7 linked regions of the Homo sapiens genome follow. The protein of the gene in region 7 purifies or fractionates together with the protein of the main gene of each other region. This does not show direct contact. Each region holds a gene or a part of one and is shown on either strand. Other genes may lie near its edges. The genes, in order: PPP2R2D, CDK5RAP2, AKAP9, FKBP15, PPM1B, UBR2 and C1orf87.

Region 1 (3,500 bases), on a different chromosome or scaffold from region 7:
TTCACTGTCTTAGTGACTTGCGGGTGTGCAGGGGGTTTCACTGTCTTAGCAGTGACTTGCGGGTGTGTGTGGGAGGTTCACTGTCTTAGCAGTGACTTGCGGGGGTTCCCTGTCTTAGCAGTGACTTGCAGGTTTGCGGGGGTTCACTGTCTTAGTGACTTGCGGGTGTGCGGGGGGTTTCACTGTCTTAGCAGTGACTTGCGGTTGTGTGTGGGGGGGTTCACTGTCTTAGCAGTGACTTGCGGGGGGGTCCCTGTCTTAGCAGTGACTTGCAGGTATGCGGGGGTTCACTGTCTTAGTGACTTGCAGGTGTGCGGGGGTTCACTGTCTTAGTGACTTCCAGTTGTGCGGGGGGTTCACTTAGCAGTGACTTGCAGGTGTGTGGGGGGTTCACTGTCTTAGCAGTGACTTGCGGGGGGTCCCTGTCTTAGCAGTGACTTGCAGGTGTGCGGGGGTTCACTGTCTTAGTGACTTGTGGGTGTGCGGGGGGTTCACTTAGTGACTTGCAGGTGTGCAGGGGGTTTCACTGTCTTAGCAGTGACTTGTGGTTGTGTGTGTGGGGGTCACTGTCTTAGCAGTGACTTGCGGGTATGCGGGGGTTCATTGTCTTAGTGACTTGCGGGTGTGCAGGGGTTCACTGTCTTAGTGACTTCCAAGTGTGCGGGGGGTTCACTGTCTTAGCAGTGACTTGCGGGTGTGTGGGGGGGTCACTGTCTTAGTGACTTGCTGGTGTGCGGGGGTTCACTGTCTTAGTGACTTGCGAGTGTGCGGGGGGTTCACTGTCTTAGCAGTGACTTGCGGGTACATGGATAGTCACTGTATTTTTTATTCCTCTTGATATATTTCAAATATTGCAAAATACCCTTAGATTACATATCCCCAAGAACATCTAAAAGCGTTCCCAGTAACATTTGCTTAGTCCATTCACTCTCAAAAACACGCCAGTCTTCCTACCTGGAAACTTCTGTTGAGGGATGCGATGAAGGGGAGTGAGGCGTTTCAGTGCTGCCTCAGCCCAATCCTGATTCTCCGTGTGGCAGCGCCTTCTTGTGTTCTAGGTCGCCCCACAGAACCAGTTATGTGCTTACGCCTGTGTCTCTGTCTGTGCTGTTCCCTTCCTGGGCCAGCACCAGGCTGCTGGGCAGCGCCCTTGTTTGCAGTGTGGAAACACCCACTCTGGGGCTGGCACTATCTGTCGAGAATTTAAAAGTGATCATAAATCTGTATGAAAGCTGATGTGCTTTTCGTTATTACCATGCACCAGCAATTCCAGTCAGTGTCGGCCATACATCATCTGTCGTCTGTGTTCTGAATAATGGTTACTGTTGAGTTTTAATAACATAAATGTAAGCTTCAGATTCACACATTCTTATTACTTACCCTTTCGTAAACATTGTGTTTTATGTGGAAACTAATTTGGGGAACCCCCAGTCAATGGCCCTCACGTGCCAACTTGGCTGCATACCCCTGTTCCAAGACCACGTGCACAGCTTGGCATTGCTGGAGGGCGCTGGGCACACCTTGTGTCTCCCGCCTCTGTGGCGCTGTGGGCTCCTGGATGGAAGCAGGAGATGGGAAATAAACATGGATCGCTGAATGCAGTTTCTCTTCTCTGAGTTCGTCTTTTTTTTTTTTTTTTCCCCTGCTTTGAAGTTTTAGACAAGGTCAGTCAGACACTAGGTATTTGCCAGCAGCCAGGGTCAGTGCTGGGCCATGGAAGGGAAGCGGCCCGCTTCTTTCTCATGGCACCTTGAAGACGCGCCAGCGTGAAAGGCCTCTCACCGCGCATGACCATGGGGGCAGGACGTGAGGGCGCGGGTTAGTGTCAAAATAGGAAGAGGAGGCGAGCTTCAAGGACGGCTGGAGAAACCAGAAGGGCATTGTTTGAACACATCTTTCATCAGAAACTGGACTCATGAAGCCATGGGTCAAATCATGGCAGCGTTTGCATCATTCAGCTATTTTTCTGTCATTTTTGTAGAAAATGTAAGATTGCAGAGGTTTTTACCAGTATTATGAAGTTATATCATGAGGATGTGTGCGGTAGTAGAATTTTTCGACAGCAGAGACATTTGAAAGCCATTACAGTTGATCTTGAAGAAACAAAAGCATGGACGGTATTGTATTGTCTGGAATGTGTGTGAAATGCAGTTGTTCTAAAATTCTGCCACACTTTGCCCAGTGGATTTTTACTATTTCTATCCGTTGCCTCATTTGAAAGAAACTTTTTGAAATTAATAGAAAAGCAGTTTAACTCCAAAGAAACATTGACAGATATGACTAGTAACTGTTGAACATGATAAGGATTATGTTCAGGTCATTATGGATCATTGACAAATTGCAGAACATAAGGCTTAAAAATAAACTGTGCTGTTATTCATGAGTGAGATAAATAGGTGGGGTTGTTTCAAAAAATACACTAATGTTAAAAGTGTGACTCCATTATTTTGTTTCTCCTGTGACATGGATTCTTACTGACATGATTATAGATAAAGCTCGGTACACATTTTCACTGCATTTCTCTTCTGCCCATTGTGATTGATCATTCCTGATTTCTGAAAGTAACTGGGTTGTGGGGGAGGGTGGCGTGCGCTGTGCACCCCAGGGGTGGGGTCTGAGTCCTTGCTGCCGCTCCCCCCACTGAGGAGTGCTGCTGTCTGCTCTTGTTTTGAACAGCGCCATCATGACCGGGTCCTATAACAACTTCTTCAGGATGTTTGATAGAGACACGCGGAGGGATGTGACCCTGGAGGCCTCGAGAGAGAGCAGCAAACCGCGCGCCAGCCTCAAACCCCGGAAGGTGTGTACGGGGGGTAAGCGGAGGAAAGACGAGATCAGTGTGGACAGTCTGGACTTCAACAAGAAGATCCTGCACACAGCCTGGCACCCCGTGGACAATGTCATTGCCGTGGCTGCCACCAATAACTTGTACATATTCCAGGACAAAATCAACTAGAGACGCGAACGTGAGGACCAAGTCTTGTCTTGCATAGTTAAGCCGGACATTTTTCTGTCAGAGAAAAGGCATCATTGTCCGCTCCATTAAGAACAGTGACGCACCTGCTACTTCCCTTCACAGACACAGGAGAAAGCCGCCTCCGCTGGAGGCCCGGTGTGGTTCCGCCTCGGCGAGGCGCGAGACAGGCGCTGCTGCTCACGTGGAGACGCTCTCGAAGCAGAGTTGACGGACACTGCTCCCAAAAGGTCATTACTCAGAATAAATGTATTTATTTCAGTCCGAGCCTTCCTTTCCAATTTATAGACCAAAAAATTAACATCCAAGAGAAAAGTTATTGTCAGATACCGCTCTTTCTCCAACTTTCCCTCTTTCTCTGCCATCACACTTGGGCCTTCACTGCAGCGTGGTGTGGCCACCGTCCGTGTCCTCTCGGCCTTCCTCCGAGTCCAGGTGGACTCTGTGGATGTGTGGATGTGGCCCGAGCAGGCTCAGGCGGCCCCACTCACCCACAGCATCCGCCGCCACCCCTTCGGGTGTGAGC
Region 2 (3,500 bases), on a different chromosome or scaffold from region 7:
CTGGTCTTGAACTCCTGGCCTCAAGTGTTGTGCCTGCCTCGGCCTCCCAGAGTGCTGGGATTATAGGTATGTGCCATTGCGCCCAGCCTGTCTCTATGATTTTGACTACTCTAAGTGTCGCGTATAAGTAGAATCATACACTATTTGTCCTTCTGTGACTGGTTTATTTAACTTAGCATTATGTCCTCAAGGTTCATGCGTGTTGTAGTATGTGTCAGAATTTCTTTCCTTTTTAAGGCTTTTGTTTTTAATTTTTTTTAGAGACAGTCTTGCTCTGTTACCCATGCTGGTCTTAAATTCCTGGGCTCAAGTGATCCTCCTGCTTCTGCCTTGCTAAGAGCTGGGATTACAGACACAAGCCACTGTGCCTGCCCTTCACTGATATTTTTATTGTCCTTTTGATTATAGCCATCCTTTGGGTGTGACATGGTAGGTATCTCATTGTGGTCTTTTTTTTTTTGTCGTTGAGACAGAGTCTCACTCCCTTGCCCAGGCTGGAGTGCAGTGGCGCAATTTCGGCTCACCGCAACCTCTGCCTCGTGGGTTCAAGCGGTTCTGGTGCCTCAGCCTCCCAAGTAGCTGGGACTACAGGCACGTGCCACCATGCTCGGCTAATTTTTATATTTTTAGTAGAGACGGGGTTTCACCATGTTGGCCAGGCTGGTGTCGAACTCTTGACCTCAGGTGATCTGCCCGCCTTGGCCTCCCAAAGTGCTGGGTTACAGGAGTGAGCCACCCCGCCTGGCCCTCATTGTGGTATTGATTACATGTTAATGGCTACTGATGTGTTGAGCATCTTTCCATGTGCCTTTTAGCCATTTGTTCACTTTCTTTGGAGAAATGTGTATTCAAATCCATCGTCCATTTAAAAAACGTGAATATATTTTGACCCAGCAATTCCACTTCTTGTCATCTATTCTAGAGAAATCCTCATACTTGTGCATATGGGACCTTATAAGGACATTCATATGACATTGCATGTAAAAGAAAAACTTGGAAACAAATTGAATTATCATCAGTAGGGGATTGGGTAAATACACATCCTTTCAAAAGTATCTTTCAGACTGTGGCCCGTTGGTAGCTCATGAAATTCAATTTAGTAGGTTGCAACCAGGATTTAGAAAAATAGAACAGAATAGAAAACATTTCAAGGATGAAGGGTAATAATATTTCTTCTGTGGCTCATGGTCAGTAAGGTTTGAAGAACACTGCTGTAGAAAGCTTTGTAGGAGTTGAAAACTTTGAGGCATATCTATTTGTACTGTCATGAAAACATCATGAGGGCATATTAAGTAGAAGAAGGATGTTGTAGCATGATGTATACTGTTTGATTGCATGTGTTTTTAAGCAGCAAAATTGAAACTATCTATGTAAAAACACATAAAAAGTTCTGGAAGTTATAGGTCTTTTTGAAAACAGTGATTACCTCCTAGGCGGGTTCTAGATGGGAGCGAGGAGGAGCCAAGGAGAACTTTAGGCTTATCTGTATTTTTTTAAATTTATGTATTTTTCTCTAATTAAGAATAAAATAGAATGAAAAAGGGGTTGTTAAAAGACAAAAGTGAGTTTGTTTGTGTAATCGTTGTCAGAATGTGATATCTGGTCTCATCCATGACTCTCATGAAACAATTTGTCAAGGAGACATAAGACCCCTTGGGTCTTATGGTTTGAGTGGACAATTGTTGCTGGCATATGTAGGCATAGAAAGAGGTCAGTCCTTTTCGGTAGCAATAGAGCAAGATAGGAGGATGAGGTGGTGGAGCTCAGGTGAAGGTCCATTCAGTCACTCAAAAATTATCCACAAACAGTTGCTACAGCTGGGCGCGGTGGCTCACGCCTGTAATCCTAGCACTTTGGGAGGCTGAGGCGGTCAGGTCACCTGAGCTCAGGAGTTCAAGACCAGCCTGGCCAACGTGGTGAATCTCCATCTCTACTAAAAGTACAAAAAATTAGCCGGGCGTGGTGGTGCATGCCTGTAATCCTAGCTACTTGGGAGGCTGAGGCACGAGAATCGCTTGAATATGGAAGGTGGAGGTTGCAATGAGCTGAGATCACGCCACTGCACTCCAGCCTGGGCGATAGAGTGAGAGTCTCCAAAAAACCAAAACAAAACAAAACAGTCGTTATGATGGCTGTGCCCTGTGCTGAGTGATGGAAATTTTATGCCTCAGTCCATTCGGCCCTTAACCACCACCACACCCCTGCCACCCCCAACCTCCGGGAAGGCGTCAGGGGTACCAGGGTGGTGTAGGTTCACAGCAGGGGGTTTAAAGTCAGGCTGGCTTGGAGTTTCCAGCCTATTAACTTTTTGGTCTTTGTTTCCTCATTAAAAAAAAAAAAAAAAAAGGCAACATTAAAAAGTACCACCAGCCGCAGAAAGACTATAGTGAGGATTAAACCTGATTTTAGTTTCAAACATTCAGTTTAGAAAATGGACTTTAATCCTGTGGTGAGGATGAAAGGGAAGGCTGCCTGTCCTGTGCTGAGTGTGGTGCTTGTGCAGCATGGGTGCCCCATACAAGGGCAGGTTTCTTAGATTGTGCTTTATTTTGCACGTGAGGAAACTGGTACTCCACCATGTGTCACATTTATATAGGAGCTTTGGGCAGTCCACACACAGGCTAGCAAGTGGAAAAGACACTGGGATCCTGGATTTTGGGCTTGGCTTTGCCACTAACTTTTGTGATTTTGAGTAAATAAGTTCCTAACCCATTTCTGGGTTTCAGTCTTCTCATCTGTGGAATAAGATCATATCTGAGCCCTTTTGTTTTGCTTACATTGTCATTTCTCGTGAGTATCCCTGAGGCCCCAGCCTTAATTATAAGGCTACAAGTGAATGATTAGAATGGAAAGAGGGAGCTGCTTGTGGCTGGAGGTGTAGTTGGAACTGACTGGAGGGTGCAGATGACAGATTCATAGCATTTTAAAAGTGGGTAGGTAAAGCCCGAGTGGAAATTTGGCAGGATCCAAGCAAAAATTTCTGCATTACATAGTGGTTTTGTCTAAGAGTTGGGATGTCAGATGTCATTTTTCAAACTTCAGTGTTTGCCTGTAGGAAGCTTGTCTAAGACCAGAATCTTTGGCTTTGTTTGCTAGGTACTTTTCAGCTGTGATTGATCTTGGCTTGAGTTATTCATGGGCAGTTTTAGCCAGTGGGAGTTAATGTAATGGCTCTGGTACCCGGAGAGAACCCCAGATTGAGAATGCAGGACCAGACCTTAGGCTGAGCTTGGCCAATAACCTGGTGTATGTGACCTTGGGCTTCTGGACCACCATCTGCAAAAGGTGATGGTTGAACTTGATTTTAGTTTTTAAAATTCAGTTTAGAAAATTGACTTTGTCCTTTTAGTGATGTTTATTGGAGGAAATTGAGAATTATATAACATTAAAAAGGAAGAAAACCTCTCATTTCCCTACTAATGATGATTTTTAATATTTCAGTATATTTCCTTTGTCTTGTTATATATCTGTAGCCCACCTATTTCCAAAATGGACTTGAG
Region 3 (3,500 bases), on a different chromosome or scaffold from region 7:
TACATCAGAGGGTTCATTTTCATTCTCTTGTAAGGATATGAACTTATGTTCTATGAAGGTGAAACCTTAGTGTGAAATGTACATTTTTTTCATTGTGCTTTACCATATATGAAGAAGTAAACATACCTGTTCTGATTTAAGTACATTGAGTTCTTTCTGAAGTTTATCATTTTCACTTGGTTGAGTTGCTCTAAGTGATGATTCCTTTGTTACAGATGGTAAGTGATCCAAAATCAACTGTTCTTGCTTACTTTCTTCTCCAACAGTCATATTTTCAAAAGAAACTTTATCTTCCACCATTATTTTTGATTCTTCACCAAAACTTTTATTTACTTTAGAAACTGATCCTTCAGCACCCCTGCTTGTCATGGTCACAACTCCATCTAATAAAGAGCTTACTTGAGTATCACATGACTGTACATTTTCTGCCCTGTTGTGGTTAATAATGATTTCTAGCTCTCTACATCTCAATGAAACTTGTTCTTTCTCTTGCTTTAAAGATTTAACTTCTTCATTTAGAAAACTAATCTCACCATGTTTCTGTTTCAATTGTTCAGAAAGATCAGACAGTCTCTGTGACAGCTCTAATTTCTCTCGCTTGGTTACCTCAAGTTTTTCCATGAGTTCTGTTGTATCCTTTTCAACAACCTCACCCATTTCCAATGTTTCTGCTACAAAAGTTTTGTCTTCATCAAAGACAGAACTTTTCATTTTCACTGTAGTTGGATTTATTCTTTGCAAATGAAGCTCTTCATTAAGTGCTTTAAGTTTACTTTTATACTCTAATTCCTGTTTATTTTTACTGTCTTCTAAATCATCTTTTACTTTGAGAAGGCAAGCATACTCCTCTTGTAACTCTTGATAGTTAACTTCAAAGTTTTTTTCAGCAAATGAAAAAGTGTTCCTTTGCTTTTCAATCTCTTCATTTAGCTGAATACATTGTTGTTTGAGGTCCTCATTTTCCTCTATAAGTATTTCTATTTCTTTTTCCCACACAGAGTCTTTGGATTTGGACTTAATGGAGTCTAAGAAAATCAATCTTTCTTCTTGGCTAACAGGAGTATGTATTTTCAACATGTCTTCAAGGGTTTTCTTTTCATCTTTAAGAATGCTATTCTCTGCTTCAAGTTGTGCAAATTTTTCTTGAAGATCATTCTCTTTTTCCTTCATCTGTTTTTCTAACAATTCTGTTTTAAGTTGTAATTCTTGAACTTCTTGTTCAAGTGTACCCTTTTCTTTTTCTTCTTGTCTGAGTATTTCAATTTCTTTTTGAAGTTCATTGATTTGAAGAGTCATTTCTTCTGACTTTGAATTTACAAGAGACTGCTGTAAATCTTTTAGCTTTGAAATTTCCAAAATTAATTGATTCTGCTTAGTTATCAAATTGTCCTTTTCAAACTGCATGGTTTCTATCTTTTGACTCATTTCATTCTGTAAACCATCTATCTGCTGTTTATAGTGAATGCCTAAATTATCTTTAAGTTTTTCAATATTTATTCGATGTTCAATTTCTAAATCTTCCTTCAGTTTGGAAAGCTCTTCTTCGTGACTAAATAGAAGCTGTGTTCTCAGCCTCTCTAATTCAGCTTCTTGTGATTCAGCCATTCTGTCTAACACAGCATTCTTTTCTTTTTCTAACATTTCAAGTTTTATCTTGTAATTTGTAACTTCTGCTTCATGTTTTAATTCTAGTTCCTTTCTGGATTCAGATGCAGAAACAATCTCAGCTTTCAAATCTTCCACTGTACTAAGGGACTTATGTGCTTCATTAAGTTTACTTTCTTGTTCAGCTATTGTCTGTCTAGCTCTCTGAATCTGTTCCCTTGAAAAGCTCAATTCTTCAACAAGGTCTTCAAGCTGTCTCTGTAGAGCACACTTTTCTTCTAAAATTAGTCCTAGTTCTTCCTTGAGTTTTTCCTTTTGAGAGTTAGTATCTTGCAATTTTATATTCAGTTCATTTATTGCCACATTCATTAACTTTATCTGATCTTCATTAACTGTAATATTTGAATATGACCTTAAAGCATTCTCCATTTCTCCCTTATGCCGTGTTTTCATTTCCTCCATCTGTGCCATGTGTTGTCTTATTAATTCTTGTTTCATTTGCACTATCTGCTGCCCATACATCTCATCCAGCTCTGCCCGGAGTTGTTCTAACTTTCTTTGTGTTTCTTGTTCCATTCGTTGTACTATATCAGTTTCGAACTGGCTGTCTTTATGATTTCTCTTCTGAAGTTCTTCGACTGTCCCCATTAACTGTTTTATTTCTTCAGAAGACTGTCTTTCTTTTTGCTTAGAATTAGTCAGCTCTAATTTCATGTTTTTTATTTCTTGGTTCTTTTGCACAATCTGTTCTTGTAATTCTCCTAGTAATTTATCAGCAGTTGTTAATTTATCCTTTAGCTCAAGAGTTTTCTTTTCTTCTTCTATTATTTTTGTGTTTAATTCTTCAATGATTGTCTCCTTTTCCTGTATTTCTTCTTTATTTGAGTTTTCTACTTTTTTATCTTGTTCCTTTAGGAAAAAAAATGAAAATGTAAGAATGGCATTTTTAGCTTCTGGCAAATTATACTGCTTCATCTCATTACCAAAAGACTGACAGAAGTTTCTCTTTTAAAAAATTCTACAAAAAGTAAATGTTGGTCCTGCCCCTCAATTTTTTCCACAATAATGACACTTAGAACTCGTGTAACCAACACTACTTGTGAGCAAACACTACAGTAGTTTTGGCCTTCTTAGAAGAAATTTCTCTTAACATTTCTGTGATTAAAATTTTTAGTTTAAAAACCCAGTCTGATTTTAGATGTCTCCAAACTGTTACATTTTCATTTTTCTTATTAACTGATCAACATTCTAAATATTTAGTATTCTCTATAGCTAAAGTACTGCATATACTCTAGACACATTCAGAAAGATAAAAATAAATAAAAGTTCCTCACATGTATTCTGGTGACTTCAATGTGTGTCATGGGCAAGGGCTATGGAAAAAGAAAAACAACAAAAACAGACTCCTAACGGTCTGTCTTAACTTCAGTCCTGGGCTCTTAAGTCAGTCAGAAATTTAGAGATATGCAATGCTTAAAAGGCTGAACCTCAAGTGACATCTAAGACAACTATACCATTTATGGCATAACAACTTGGTCCTAGGACTTTTGGTTTAAACAGAATTTTCAAAGCAAAGCAGATACTCTCCCCCAGTTCTTATTTGGGATTCTATTTTGGAATGGAGATAGGGCTACGCCCAGACACAGGCCAAGGCATATCTGTTATGGTGATTACTTCAGCATGACAAAGTCAAGCAGAGGCCCTAGGTCAAAGTTTTGCTTCAGTAACTTACTTGCCTCTGTAAGTAATAGAGGGCTATAGTCTCAAAAACAAATAAATACATGAAATCTACAGAATGGATCAGGACATAAGTAGGTAAGTAAAATCATTTTAAAGAGACAGGAGTCCCAGGCAAACAGGACTTAAAGGTGCCTTGAATGAATGAATGAATGAAT
Region 4 (3,500 bases), on a different chromosome or scaffold from region 7:
AACTTTTTTTACAGTAGTGGTATCACGTTTAATGTTTTTTAGGAAAATGTCATGGACTTGTACTACATAAGAAGGAGATCTTTCTCACTCGTAGTTAACTGCTGCATAGTAGCCTACTATGAGGCTGTACCATAATTTGTTTAATGATTTGCCTATCGATGGATATTTATGTTTTTATTTTTTCATTATTTTAAGCACTGCTTCTATGGACATTCTCATATTATATAACTGTTTTTGCAAATTTGTTTGAGCATTCCTACGTGATGGATTGCATGAGTAAGAATCATGGGATCAAAGGGAAGGCTACATATTTGAATTTTTATAAATATTACCAGGTTATCCTCAAAGAATAGTGCTTACACTTTCAGCAGTATGTGAGTGAGCCCATTTGTCACATTCTTCCCCACTCTACATATATCACTTTTTCTAATCTTCATTAGTCTGACAGGTGAAATATGTTATCTTGTTTTAATGTGTATTTTTATTAGTAGTAAAGCTTTCATATATTTAATACCTATTTGTATTTCTTATGTACATTCTCTCTTTAGTGTCCTTTATCCTTTTTCCTATTATTAGTTTGATTTGTAAACCCTTTTAAGGGTATCAATCCTTTGTCAGTCATAGATGTTGTAAATATTTTTCTAGCTTGCTGTCTTTTAACTTTATTTATAGTATCTTTTGTTGGTTAAAATTTTAATATCAGGAAATACTAAGTGAACAAAGTGAGAACATTTCTATCTTTTTGTCTGTTCTGGAATCGTTTAAATATGAAAATAATAAACTGCTCCTGAGGCTTCAGTAAATCTCATTAGGTAAAGCTGTTTTGGCCCAGTGCCTTTTAAGAGGGTAAATCTTGGTCTGCAATTGCATTTTTTTCCAGGATTTTTTCCATTTTATTTATTTATTTTTAACCAATTCCTTCTAACCTCTTGGCTGTTTTCAGTTTGTCATTACTATAGATACTACTACAGTGACCATCCTTGTAACACACTCTTTATGACTATGACTTATTGAATCCTTAATTACAATTTGTGGAATTTCTGGATACGTATGTTTTTAAAGGCTTTTCACAGGATTACTATCCAAAGAGAGTATATCCATTCGTTTTCTTACTATCAGGGTATGAGAATGTCTGATTTCCTGTACCTTTATTAAAGTTAGGATGTTCCCTAGCTCTTTTTTTTTTTTTTTTTTTTTTTTTTTTTTTTTTTTTCTGAGGCGGAGTCTCGCTCTGTCGCCCAGGATGGAGTGCAGTGGCGGGATCTCGGCTCACTGCAAGCTCCGCCTCCCGGGTTCATGCCATTCTCCTGCCTCAGCCTCCCAAGTAGCTGGGACTACAGGCGCCCGCCACTACGCCCGGCTAATTTTTTGTATTTTTTAGTAGAGACGGGGTTTCACCGTTTTAGCCGGGATGGTCTCGATCTCCTGACCTCGTGATCCGCCCGCCTCGGCCTCCCAATTTCCCTAGCTCTTAATAGAGGGGTAGATACAGCTCTTCTTGTTTTCCTTCTCCTGTCACCATTTTCCTCACCCAGTAGCCAAGAATGTTAAATATTTAGGGGAAAATTCAACTAAAAAATGGAGTTTTCAGAAATGGAGTAAGGATTCCACAAGGTAATTAACTGCCACCGCCATCATCCCTCTTTATTCTCTGTTAACAAGCTAGAGCTGATGATGGTTCTCTTGTTCCTAAGAACCTCTCAGAAAGGAAAAAGAAGTCAGCTCAAGAGCGTTCTCAGGCCGAGGAGGAGATAGATGAAATTCGCAAGTCATACCAGGAGGAATTGGACAAACTTCGACAGCTCTTGAAAAAGACTCGAGTGTCCACAGACCAAGCAGCTGCAGAGCAGGTAATGGGAAACTGAAGCACTTTGAAAATAGAGGGAAGGTGTGAAGGACTCAGAGAGAAAAGCTTCTGGTTTCTTCCTTACCCTTTAGGATGACATTTCTCATAGCTGATACTCTCACTTTGGAGAAAGGTAGAAAAAGTAATCCAGATATGTGCAGGAGAGCCAGGAATCAAATGGAGAATCTTCTTTCTTTTTTTAAAGCTTAGTTAATATTTAATTACATAAGTAAAAATGAAAAATAGTTTCCTTACAAAAAAAATTCCAAACATGGTAAGGCCAAAACCATCAACCATTGGACACCATCCTTCAGGCACATTATCATCCTTGAAAAGAAGGGATTGATTTAGGTCATCAGGAAGGGAACCAGGGATAGTGGCAGGACACAGCTGGATCTCTAGTCTGTGCAACAGCAACCTTTCTCATTATAAGCTTAAAATTTATATGCATACATTTGTTTAATTAGAGTGCATTGGTGCCCTCAATTTGACCACCTCTGGGAATTTTGGTGAAAAAAAGTTTCTGAACCTATAAAGTTTAGGGTTCAGACCCTGAAAAGCAGTGATCACATGGCCCTGCCCTCCAGGGACCTATCTAGATAGGCACACTTTTGTCTGCTTGGAGTACCTTTTGGAGTCCTGACAACCAATGACATCTTAAGAAGTGCATTTATTTTAAAAGTAATGAGTCTTTTAAACAGTTTCCCAGTTAAATCTGGGCTGTTAGCTTATTCTTTTGCTTTTTGAAAGATGGGTTTCCCTAGGTGCAATGGAATCTCACTCCCCCACCCCCAAGGATGATATGGTCATTACTTTCTCTTGGCAGCTGTCTTTAGTACAGGCTGAGCTACAGACCCAGTGGGAAGCAAAATGTGAACATTTGTTGGCCTCCGCCAAGGATGAGCACCTGCAGCAGTACCAGGAGGTGTGCGCACAGAGAGATGCCTACCAGCAGAAGCTGGTACAACTTCAGGAAAAGGTACATATTTTTCTTGAGTCAGACAGTTTAGGCAGCCCAGTTAATTTGAGGCAAGCAGGCTGTTTGAGTCCTGTCGATCCTTCTAAGCCTGAAAGTTATTAATATCTAGAAGACAAAACCACACTTGTTTAGCTTGTCAGTTATCTTTCACATACTTATGTGGGGTGATAGGTCAGTGACCTGGAAAAAGAGAAAACAGCACTAGTGTTCCGGAACATGTTTCCCATTATTATTGGATCCTTCATTTATTAAGCAAATATTTATTGAGAGTCAGTTGTATTCCATCCAGTGTGTTAAAGGAAGTGCATACAAGGAACCCTTCCCTCATGTATCTCACAGTCAAGAAAGGGAGACAAAGAAACAAAGATAGGTGTTAAGTGCTATGGGGCCCAGAAGAGGAAGTACCCAGGAGAGCTGGGAAGGTTTCCCAAAGGTGGTGACATTTGAGCAGAGCCAAGAAGGACAAATAGCTTTGGTAAGGCAGCAAAGGAGGCAGAACATCCTGGGCAAAGGCACTGAGATAGGATGGAGGCTGGGGTGTGGTGGGATCATCAGGCCTGAAAAAGAGAGATGGGACATGGCTTAGGGTCATGGTGTGAAAGTCCATATTCGAGGTCAGTTTCTTTCCTTAAAGTGTCCAGTTGAAAACTTTTGGCTCAGAGATCTTGGAGGCAA
Region 5 (3,500 bases), on a different chromosome or scaffold from region 7:
GGTTCATCAGATTTTTTTAAATGGCGATATGTAATTTTATTGTAAAGTTCAATAATGATCATACCTGGAAAAAATCTCACAAAGATACGTAGACCCAAATGGAGGTAAATTGATCTAGACCAGTGTCTCTCAAAACTTTAAATCACCAGCATGCTTTTTTGATGATTCCATCTAAGATCTATTGAAAAAAATCCTTAGGTGTGGGAATAGGGCTATGGAGTCTGCATTTTGAGCAGATATAACAGCAAACATTTTATGGTGTTTATTGTGTTTTAAGTGCTGTTTTAAGCACTTTACATTGACTCATTCTTCACAGCAGCCCTATGAGGTATAGGTACAGGTGACTAAGAAATTTGCCCAAGGTCACCTAGTTAGAGTGTAGGGTTAGCATTGTATGTAGAAAACATACCAGAGAATTCTTTTGCATACTTTTGGGAACCATTACTCTAAGTCTAATCTAAGTCATTTGAAATTGGGAAAGCTTTATTCTATAAAATAGTAAAGTTGGGTAGGCGGGGAGAGGGTGATGCATAGTAGTACTTTCCAATTCTAAGGATTTTAAGTCTTTGTCAGTCAACACTGGGTAGCTACTTCATGGATTTTAAGTTCAGCAAAGTGAAGTCCATTTTTTAGCACCATGTTAAAGGTATGTTTTTAACAGAATCAAAGTAATGATAAGGTTTTCAGTTTTATAGATATATAGTAAAAGTGATAAAACCAAATGTGTGTAGAATGGAGATTTTTATGTTTTAATTGAATTTTGGGGTTGTCTTTAGGTTCACTGGGAGGAGAAATCTTGATTTCAATACTTGCTTTTGAAAGTCTTCTAAAGTATATTAGTATACCTTCCTACCTTGATTTATTGAACAAGATGACTCACTGTTTTGAATATTCTCATTGTCCAGTCTTCTGTAAACTTACATGTCGAACCCTAGACTCACCTTGTAAATTAAATCAGAATGAAATTATTAATGAAGTTTTATTTCTTGTTTTTTCCTTTCTCCTAGAACAGTGGTCTCAACGTGGCTGCACATACAAGTCACCAGAGAGGCTTTTAAAAGATGATATCTGTGTCCCATCCCTAGGGATTCTGATTTAATTGGTCTGATTATTCTTACGCGCTAGGGCTGAGAAACCACTGTTCTGTAGGATGTAGGGGAGGAAATTTCTTGGGCTTTTGTTGTTGCTCCCGTAAATTAGGATAATACTAAAAAAAATACTTGAGGTAGGAGTTACTAGACTATAGAGGGAATATTGTACATACATTTTCTGTCAAATTTAAACATTTAACACCTGCATTTTTTATTTCAGATTTATTGCTAAACATGGGTGCATTTTTGGATAAACCCAAAACTGAAAAACATAATGCTCATGGTGCTGGGAATGGTTTACGTTATGGCCTGAGCAGCATGCAAGGATGGAGAGTGGAAATGGAAGATGCACACACAGCTGTTGTAGGTATTCCTCACGGCTTGGAAGACTGGTCATTTTTTGCAGTTTATGATGGTCATGCTGGATCCCGAGTGGCAAATTACTGCTCAACACATTTATTAGAACACATCACTACTAACGAAGACTTTAGGGCAGCTGGAAAATCAGGATCTGCTCTTGAGCTTTCAGTGGAAAATGTTAAGAATGGTATCAGAACTGGATTTTTGAAAATTGATGAATACATGCGTAACTTTTCAGACCTCAGAAACGGGATGGACAGGAGTGGTTCAACTGCAGTGGGAGTTATGATTTCACCTAAGCATATCTACTTTATCAACTGTGGTGATTCACGTGCTGTTCTGTATAGGAATGGACAAGTCTGCTTTTCTACCCAGGATCACAAACCTTGCAATCCAAGGGAAAAGGAGCGAATCCAAAATGCAGGAGGCAGCGTGATGATACAACGTGTTAATGGTTCATTAGCAGTATCTCGTGCTCTGGGGGACTATGATTACAAGTGTGTTGATGGCAAGGGCCCAACAGAACAACTTGTTTCTCCAGAGCCTGAGGTTTATGAAATTTTAAGAGCAGAAGAGGATGAATTTATCATCTTGGCTTGTGATGGGATCTGGGATGTTATGAGTAATGAGGAGCTCTGTGAATATGTTAAATCTAGGCTTGAGGTATCTGATGACCTGGAAAATGTGTGCAATTGGGTAGTGGACACTTGTTTACACAAGGTATGTAAACTTTTTTGTCATTAAAATAACATGTTAATTTTGAAAAGTTACGGTAGGTAAAGTTAAGCTAACTTAAAATTTTAAAACTTTTAATATTTTCACAGAAGCTGTATATTTTGAAGTACTTTACCAGAAATGAAACCATTGTTTTCTTTGCCATCCTTGTTTGTCCCAGCCTTCTAATTTGAAAATTAAGCTTGATAAATTTGAGGCATTTGTTGTCATTTAAGTACTTCATAGCTTGTTGCTGTAGCAAAAGCATTTACACAGAGTGACTTTTTCTTGACATTGGCAGTAACCATCTTATGCCTGATTATGAAGCAGCTTGATAAAATATGTATATAGTAGAATTCTGTACTAGATATTACTAAAAGATCAAGAGCCATGTGAAATATTGGAAGATGTACTAGATGCCTAGCCTGTATAAAATTTAGTCCTGAGCCTCCTAGCAGTGAAGACAAAAACTGAAATAAAAATATGGGTTGTATATTTCTCATTGTCTTCTAAAAGCAGCTCTTATCTGGCAATACAATCTAAAAAGGATTTACATGTGGCTCTCTAAGTAATACATGACTTGGATAGTATCTTTTGTAGAAGATAAAATTCTTTTCATATAGATGTTTTTATTATTTCTGATTAAAAACCAAAGGCTTCTATAAAACATAATCTTGTGAAAAATTCCTGTGGAACACTAAAGTTTATTTAGATTTGTAATTTTGTATGAATCATTGCTTGATACAGTAATAGAAAAAAAGTCCAGAGTAATAGATAATTGGCAATCCTTTGAATATCTTTAAAATACTCAGTTGTTTCAAGTGGGTTTTTGACAGCATCTATATATAATTCAATTAAAATTTGAGTTATCTGGCCAGTGTCTGGAGTGTGTAAGTATTTGACTGAAAAGATACCAAGGTAAAACTGACCTTTAGTTACATGAAATAAATAAAGGGTTTGACTTATTTATTCTGTCTAGATTAGAACCACTGTATCTCCCTACTCCAAAATGTACTGTGGAAGGTATGGGCATAACCAGAAAGTTTTTCAGAAAGGATCTCTGGGTCTCTGGAAATGCCCAGATTTTGGTTAAATACCGATTTCTTTTTAATAGAATGGAAAGAGGCAGTTTTAAAAACAGAAGATTTAAAGGCCGTTCTTGTCAGTGGACAGCCTTTTTCTGAAAGGATTTTAATGATGGTACCTCTAGCTCCTCTGATTTTTATTTTTAACACACTGTATCTTTTTACTTCTGGATGAGTTAAGTAAAGAAGTATTGATGGTTGTCAGTGATCAAATAGTAAGTGGGTCTAAAATTATGTATTTGTCTTTGAA
Region 6 (3,500 bases), on a different chromosome or scaffold from region 7:
ATGATTTCATTAATCCAGTGGGTCCTCTATACATAGCTTATTGTTAACAAAAACAGTATCTGAACTCTCTCCAGGACTGTAGGCAGTTGAAAAAACATGGGTTTTGGACCCATAAATATCTAGATATGAATCCTACCTCCTCCTCTTATGAGCTGTTTTACACAAATTAATATCTCTGATCAGGCCTCAGTTTCCCTATTGGTAAACTAAAGACAATATGTTACATGTAAATTGTAGAGATGTAAGTGTGAACGTATGTAAAAGCTGGCAGGTACACAAATGCTAGCTCTGTTGGCCTCCTGCTGTCTGCATGGCAGTATAAGTGGTGGTGGTTTTAGTTGCAGCAATGAGAACAGTAATAGCCGCATTTATTAGGAATATATTGCTCTAAGTGTGTTACATGGATTAACTCACTGAGTTCTGACATAGTCATATAAAGTAGGTACTAACCAACTTAAAGGGGCAGAATCTGAGGTCCAGAGAATAAAGGCACAGCACTCGGGGCTGCTGGGTGTGGCAGTACACTCTGTACCCTGTGCAAGGGAACCCAGTTGAGGTAGGGCTGAAATTTGGCTACCCACTATTTGGACAGCTGTGTGTCTTAGCACTAGGATGTCCTGGCTCAGAGGACATACCTTTCCCTGAATTATAAGGGGCTCTCTGCTGCTAAGTAGTGTGACCACAGGGCTGTATCTGCCAGATTTTCGAAAATGTACAAAAGCACTGTATGGGCCAGCAGCAGTGCTTCTGTTGCTGTTTTTTTTTTTTTGGATGGGGTCTTGCTCTGTCATCCAGGCTGGAGTGCAGTCATGCAATCTTGGTCACTGCAACCTCCGCCTCCTGGGTTCAAGTGATTCTCCTGTCTCACTTTCCTGAGTAGCTGAGATTACAGGCATGTGCCACCACGCCCAGCTAATTTTTTGTATTTTTAGTAGAGATAGGGTTTCACCATGTTGGCAAGGCTGCTCTCAAACTCCTGACCTCAAGTGATCTGGGGTGAGCCTCGCAAAGTGCTGGGATTACAGGCATGAGTCACCACACCTGACCCGTTGCTGGTGTTTTTATCTCTTTACAGGTTAAAAGCACAGAGAGGTTAAAATACTAACCTCAGCCATAAAGCAAAATAAGAGTCAGAGGACGTCTCGATAACCAGGTCAAGTCTCTCAACTAGGTTCCTAAATATTTTCTTTTTGAGGTTTCTCATAAAAGAATTATACTCAGAAGGGGTAAGGAAATCACATAACTCCTTCCTGTCTGCCACTACACTGCTCACCAAACCTAAGGTAAAGTTACATAGTATGACGTAGAAGTCCAAACAAACTGCACAATACCCACCAATAAATGAAACATGTCAATATCTAATATGCATGGAAGTTCCTCATGGCTGTCATTAGGCACCAGTGCTACAGATTTAAAGAGAAATACATTAGCATATTTCATATGCCAACATGTTAAAATGCATATAATCTGCTTTAAATTTATCTTCTTGCAAGACACATGAGAATTTATAAGCTAGAGCTTATATATAAGAAAACCAGTACTACTAAATATTTAATTCATTACTGAGAGAAGCTGTACCATTAAAAACAAAATTTCAGAGGATGAAAAATTACAACATGTTATAAATGTATTAATACTCACATGCAAAAAGTTTACAAAAATGTCCTTGCACCACTGAAACTGATGCCACTGTCCAGTGTGCTGCGGCAAATCTCGTCAATGACCTAAGACAGTCATCCTAAAATAAACCAACGCAATTAACAAAAAACAAAAATGCAAAGCAGTTCTCTTTCAGGAATGCTAGTTCAGAGCACAGCTGGATGCACAATGAAACTGCTCTAGATGGTATGGAACTAGATCTATGACATCTCAATGACATGCCTCTAACACAGGATAAATGGAATGGGAAATGTCTAAGTGTGTGCTGAATAAATGAAATCTATCTCTTTGCCACCATGTTGCTGGTTTTCTCTGGAAAAGAAAAGAATATAGAATATACGCATCTGACAGAAAGCAAGGGACACTCCCAAGATGCCAGTGCAGGCCGGGTGTGGTGGCTCACACCTGTAATCCCAGCTACTCGAGAGGCTGAGGAAGGAGAATCACTTGAACCCTGGAGGCAGAGGTTGCAGTGAGCTGAGATCACACCACTGCACTCCAGCCTGGAAAACAGAGCGAGACTCTATCTCAAAAAACAAATAAACAAGCCAAGATGCGGATGCAGTATTTCTCTATGTTTATCCTAAACAGATACCCTAAAACACATATCTCTTATGTTTATCCTAAAGAGATCCTCTAAAATGTGGATACTCTTCCGTAAAATGTAGAGTATCCTAAAGAGATACTCCAAATATTGGGGAAACTGTCTAAGAAGATGGTGGTACAAATGAGGGTGCCTGCAGCTATTAAAAATTGTTATGAGGACTAAGTAGCAGTAATAAGAAAACTCTTGATTTAAAGAATACAGCAGAAACAAAGCTACATGTGAGTACCAATTGTAATCAAGCATAAATATGCTAATGGAAAAAGATGGGTATGTGATAAGTTGATGACTTTTTTCTTCCTGCTTGTTTTTTCATTTTCCAAATTTTCTGTAATGTTTGGTTCAATAAATATTGAGGTCCTACTATATACACTAGGTCTTGGTTCTGAAGATCTTCAAATAAAACCCATTCTCCCCCTCCTGCTCTCAAAGAGCTTAAAGTCCTGGGGTGGGAAAGGAAGAAAGTGGGGAAGGAGGCAGGCATCACAGATGAGAGGTCTCTAACTCACAGTACATGGTTCAGAGGGCTTTCTAAGGGAAGGGAAAGCTTGAACAGCATCTGAAAGAGTAGCAGTCTGCTTAGGGTACTCTAGGCAGAGGAAATGGAATGTGCAAAGGCATGGGAACTAGCATTGAGGAACTGGCAGTGATTCTACAAGTCTGGACCACAGGGGTGGGAACTGGCAGGAGGTGATAATGGAGAAATAGGTTAAGAAGTTTGTAAAAGTATGAAGAATATGAACAGGATTGCTTTTGAGGAGCCCCTCTAATAACGTATTAGAGAAGAGTGAGATTCTGGGTAAAAACTGCTATGATAATCTAGGCAAGAAATAATATGGGGCTGAACCAAACAAGTAGAAGAAGGAATGGTGAGAATTTGTCAGACTCTGCTGACCAACTGAATGTGAATGCCCAGGCTAAAAAATGTATCTAGGCCGGGAATGGTGGCTCATGCCTGCAATCTCAGCATTTTGGGAGGCCGAGATGGGCAGATCACCTGAGGTCAGGAGTTTGAGACCAGCCTGGCCAACATGGTGAAACCCCATCTCTACTAAAAACGCAAAAATTAGCTGGGCACGGTGGCATGCACCTGTAATCCCAGCTACTCGGGAGGCTGAGACAGGAGAGTCGCTTGAACCCAGGATGCAGAGGCTGCAGTGGGCCGAGATTGTGCCATTGCACTCCAGTCTGAGCAACAGAGTGAGACTCCATCTCAAAAAAAAAAGACTTCAATTTT
Region 7 (4,004 bases):
AATAATATAGTTTTCCAGGTAGGAGATCTGAGCCAGGTGTCCAAACTAATTCTATTTACTTTTCTTGACAGTGACAGGGATTTGACATATCTCAAAATAATCGCTTACCATATCACAGTGTCTTAGTTTCCTCATCTACAAAACAGACATAAACTGTGTCCTAGGCATAGAATATAAAAGGGACATCAAACATTTCAGAGAAAGAGGTTCGATTTTTTGTTACATTTTTTATATCTATAGAAAGACTTCTATAATAATAGCAGGATTATTTACTAAGCATGTTATTTATAATAGACACTGGAAAGGTGCTTTGCATACTTTTTCTCATTTAATCCTCACAATAACCCTATTACTAGATAGGTGTTGTTTTATCCCCACTTCATATATGTAGAATCTAAGGCCAAAGATGTTAATTCATTTTCCCAATGTCAAAAAGGCAAGAAAGAATCAGACCTAAGATTCAATTTCACACCTCTCAGCACTGTAGGGATCCCAAATGTATGAATCACGTGCTGCAAACCTCAGTTCCTGTGCAGTGGCAGACATTACTAACTGATTATAGCAGTCACTTTGGAATCCCTCTAGACCTTACAATACTGATAGTAGGGAAGTAGAACTAATGTGCCTTTCTAAAGCCTTATTAAAGCCTGTACTTCATAACAGCAGTCTTGGTGACCTACATTCAGAGATTTTGATTCAGCAGACCTTGAGCTGGTTCCTGAATCTGTATTTTTGAGGTCTCTCCCAGTGATTCTGATGACAGCTAGGTTTAGCAAAAATTTCTTCTTGCACCTATGTTCAACAATACCATATCTTTGTATATTTGTTCAGTCTATGAGTTTCTGAAATAGAAGATAGAGCTAAGGAAATAATCTTAGGAAGGAAAAGTAATTTTTGACTAGCTATTACTTATGGAACGCCTACTATATGAAAGACAGATCTAGTACCTTCCCTCCTTTTTTGAGCCACTGAAACTCTGTAAGAAAGAGCTAGTCATACTGTTCTGTGCTGAAACATCTGGTGAATATTAGAAATACAGGAGTGTCATCTCTTAAATGTGACTCTGATGGGTTTGGAATAGAAGAAAGAGATCTTAGCCATGATCTGAGAAGCCCAAGCTTAGAGGAGTATCAAATACAAACAGGAGTAAGTGAAAACCTTACAATTTATGATTCTGTATTAATCCTACTCCTGTAATTCACAACAAATTGACTATTAAACCTCCCCCACTCTCCCCAAAATTAGTACATGTGGTAGATTACAAGCCCGATGAGAAAAGGCAGCAGTGCTCCATTAATATTTATAAATGTCGCAATGCTCATATTTCCCATCTATTTGGAAAATCAGCCCAAGTAATTAAGGAGTATGGGGAATTATAAAGATGAAAAATATCAGGAAAACAGTGCACATGGAAGTTATCAACACGATTTTACCTCTACTGTTGCATCTTAATGACTTCGTTTTCCATGGATGGCATTTTTTAAGTTTAAATTTCTGGGTGAAAACAAAACAATAAAACTTCATTATCATCCAAGCAACATAGATATTTTTCAAATATGGACTTACATCTTTGGCTTCTCCACGAGGTATTGAAAGTGTTTACTTCCAATGATTTTCACCATGATCTCAGGCATTGCATCTGATCCACGGGGAGTCTTCCAGGCTGAAGACATGATTCCTTTCAAAATCCCTTCAGATCCCTAGGGGTGAAAATAAGTAAATTGTTCCTCTTGATTTTCCATTAGGGAACTGCATCATCCTTGCCAATAACAACAAGCAATAATAATAGCAGGACAAAGTGTTTCACCTATATTACCTCACTTAACACTCCTAACAAAGGCATGAGAAAGATATTTTTAACTACTATTATCATTTTTGTTTTACTGTTGAGGAAACAAGCAAAATGTAGCTATATGACTTACTCACATCACATCACATCACCAGTAATTAGCCGACTTGGGAATCTCACCTAAGAGGTCTGTACAGCAGATCTACTGAATCATTAGGTGACTCTACCTTCCTGTACTACAAGACATAGGATGGAATTCCAGTGAGGTCAGAGCAGAAACAAGGGCATTAGTGGGACATATGAAGAATCCATATTCAGTTCTGATGTTTAGTTTCCCCATTTATGAGATCAGGGTAATTCTAGGTCTGTTCTCAGGGACTTGAGGGTGAATCCAAGGAGATAATGCATCTGAAGGGAGACTGTACACAAGACAGACAGACTTTTGTTGTTATCACTGATCTCTTTCTACAACAATACAATGAATCTGAAATTGAACTCCTGCACAAGGTGTTTAAACAGAGTGATGCCAAGGGAAAATCAGAAGTTCAGTAAATCTGGCCACAGCTGAACACTCCCTTTTAGAACCACCCAGAGGCTGAAAGGCCTTTAGAAATCATTCTACTCCAAAGGCTCCTTCACAGATTGGAAAACTAAGGCCCAGAGAGGGTGTGTTATTTGACAAGGGTCACAGAGGAATGAAGGACGGGACTGTTTCCAGTACTTGGGTCTGATGTCTAGGCCAGGGTTCTTCCCAAAAGTCCAATACTAAAGACCTGTGCTAGGGCAGCCCCTCATCCCGGGGACCTGCAGCCTCTTTGCACCTGTCTGGAATCTTCCAGACCCGGAACTCGTGATCCTCAAATCCCCTCCCTGCCCAGCAGCTGCGTGTCGGCCCTGATTGCCCGGAGAGAACAGAGTCGGGGGGCTTACCGCTAGGGCAGCGTCCCCACCCTGGCAGCTCAGAGGTGCGCGGTCCGTGCTTCTCCCCAGGAAGCTGACACTCTCAGACCCGGGGACGGGACGGGGCGTGGGGACCGAGCCCAGGAATCCGGCCAATCACAGGGCCCGCATCGCGGGCGGCGCCTGTTCCGCCCTGGTCGCTAAGGACGCTGAAGGCTGTTTCTGGGCGGGGACCAGGTTTTTCTCCACTGCCTAGGCAATGGACCCAGGCTCTGGCTGCCAACGGGTGAAGAGCCTAGGTGTTTTTGATCTGTGCCTTCTCTGTTCCTCAGAGATATGCGGGCGTCCTTCTAGAAGCCCATCTCGCTCACCTGTGTGGTCACCCTTGTCCCGCCCTTCCTCCGAAGGCTTCATTTCCCTTTGTGAGTTTGCACATAGTTGAGATTCCAACACAGTAGGTTCAAATCCAGACGTCTCCACTGTATGGCTTGAGTAAATCCCTTCTTTTCCCTGAGATTGTTTCCTCATCTGTGAAACGGGGCAAAATAATAACACTGTCCTAACTGCGATTTGGTGACTAAATTAAATAAGAATATCGGCCGGGCTCAGTGGTTCACCCCTGTAATCCCAGCACTTTGTTAGGCCGAGGTGGGCAGATCACGAGGTCAGGAGATTGAGACCATCCTGGCTAACATGGTGAAACCCCGTCTCTACTAAAAATACAAAAAATTAGCCGGTCGTGGTGGTGCGCGCCTGTAATCCCAGCTACTCAGGAGGCTGAGGCAGGAGAATTGCTTGAACTTGGGAGGTGGACCTTGCAGTGAGCCAGGATGGTACTACTGCACTCCAGCCTGGGCAACAGAGCGAGACTCCATATCAAACAAACAAAGAAACAAAAAAACCAGAATATTATAGATTGATAATAATAACGTTGAGTACTGTCTCTATGCCAGATCCCTATGACAAGCTGGATAACTCTCACCTCACAAGTTAATAGTTATAAACAAAATAGTTTTACTTTATTTTAAAGAGAAAAGAAACAAGTTGGGGTATTGATAAACTACTCCAAATCCTGCAAAAGCAAGTACAGAGCTAAGATTAGAATATAGATCTGCATATCCTACATTTCCAGACAGTTGTTATTATGCTAAAAGAAACTTCAGCTGATGCAGGCAAAGACACTTTAGATTGATTCCCAAACGGTATTGTTATTTGCATCAACATAGGCAGCAGCAGCTCCAGCATCTGTTCCCCTGTCTCCTAACCTCTAGCTGTACTGTGCTTTACAGGTGAATATATCACCCACTGGCACATG

The links.
Region 1: the proteins of C1orf87 (region 7) and PPP2R2D purify together in Homo sapiens (affinity purification with mass spectrometry; 2 studies listed by BioGRID and IntAct, with this or other methods). This does not show direct contact.
Region 2: the proteins of C1orf87 (region 7) and CDK5RAP2 purify together in Homo sapiens (affinity purification with mass spectrometry; 2 studies listed by BioGRID and IntAct, with this or other methods). This does not show direct contact.
Region 3: the proteins of C1orf87 (region 7) and AKAP9 purify together in Homo sapiens (affinity purification with mass spectrometry; 2 studies listed by BioGRID and IntAct, with this or other methods). This does not show direct contact.
Region 4: the proteins of C1orf87 (region 7) and FKBP15 purify together in Homo sapiens (affinity purification with mass spectrometry; one large-scale study listed by BioGRID and IntAct). This does not show direct contact.
Region 5: the proteins of C1orf87 (region 7) and PPM1B purify together in Homo sapiens (affinity purification with mass spectrometry; 2 studies listed by BioGRID and IntAct, with this or other methods). This does not show direct contact.
Region 6: the proteins of C1orf87 (region 7) and UBR2 purify together in Homo sapiens (affinity purification with mass spectrometry; one large-scale study listed by BioGRID and IntAct). This does not show direct contact.

What each region holds. Positions count from the first base shown.
Region 1 is NC_000010.11:131,953,008-131,956,507, forward strand, and holds part of PPP2R2D (serine/threonine-protein phosphatase 2A 55 kDa regulatory subunit B delta isoform), read left to right. Parts: intron 1-2,676; coding exon 2,677-2,956; 3' UTR 2,957-3,500. UniProt on the Homo sapiens protein: Substrate-recognition subunit of protein phosphatase 2A (PP2A) that plays a key role in cell cycle by controlling mitosis entry and exit. Involved in chromosome clustering during late mitosis by mediating dephosphorylation of MKI67.
Region 2 is NC_000009.12:120,573,668-120,577,167, reverse strand, and holds part of CDK5RAP2 (CDK5 regulatory subunit-associated protein 2), read left to right. Parts: intron 1-3,500. UniProt on the Homo sapiens protein: Potential regulator of CDK5 activity via its interaction with CDK5R1. Negative regulator of centriole disengagement (licensing) which maintains centriole engagement and cohesion. Involved in regulation of mitotic spindle orientation.
Region 3 is NC_000007.14:91,999,862-92,003,361, reverse strand, and holds part of AKAP9 (A-kinase anchor protein 9), read right to left. Parts: intron 2,515-3,500; coding exon 127-2,514; intron 1-126. UniProt on the Homo sapiens protein: Scaffolding protein that assembles several protein kinases and phosphatases on the centrosome and Golgi apparatus. Required to maintain the integrity of the Golgi apparatus. Required for microtubule nucleation at the cis-side of the Golgi apparatus.
Region 4 is NC_000009.12:113,172,778-113,176,277, reverse strand, and holds part of FKBP15 (FK506-binding protein 15), read left to right. Parts: intron 1-1,694; coding exon 1,695-1,850; intron 1,851-2,672; coding exon 2,673-2,825; intron 2,826-3,500. UniProt on the Homo sapiens protein: May be involved in the cytoskeletal organization of neuronal growth cones. Seems to be inactive as a PPIase. Involved in the transport of early endosomes at the level of transition between microfilament-based and microtubule-based movement.
Region 5 is NC_000002.12:44,199,875-44,203,374, forward strand, and holds part of PPM1B (protein phosphatase 1B), read left to right. Parts: intron 1-1,311; 5' UTR 1,312-1,325; coding exon 1,326-2,171; intron 2,172-3,500.
Region 6 is NC_000006.12:42,672,029-42,675,528, reverse strand, and holds part of UBR2 (E3 ubiquitin-protein ligase UBR2), read right to left. Parts: intron 1,739-3,500; coding exon 1,642-1,738; intron 1,404-1,641; coding exon 1,336-1,403; intron 1-1,335. UniProt on the Homo sapiens protein: E3 ubiquitin-protein ligase which is a component of the N-end rule pathway.
Region 7 is NC_000001.11:60,070,971-60,074,974, forward strand, and holds the start of C1orf87 (uncharacterized protein C1orf87), read right to left. Parts: upstream 2,801-4,004; 5' UTR 2,720-2,800; intron 1,701-2,719; 5' UTR 1,674-1,700; coding exon 1,567-1,673; intron 1-1,566.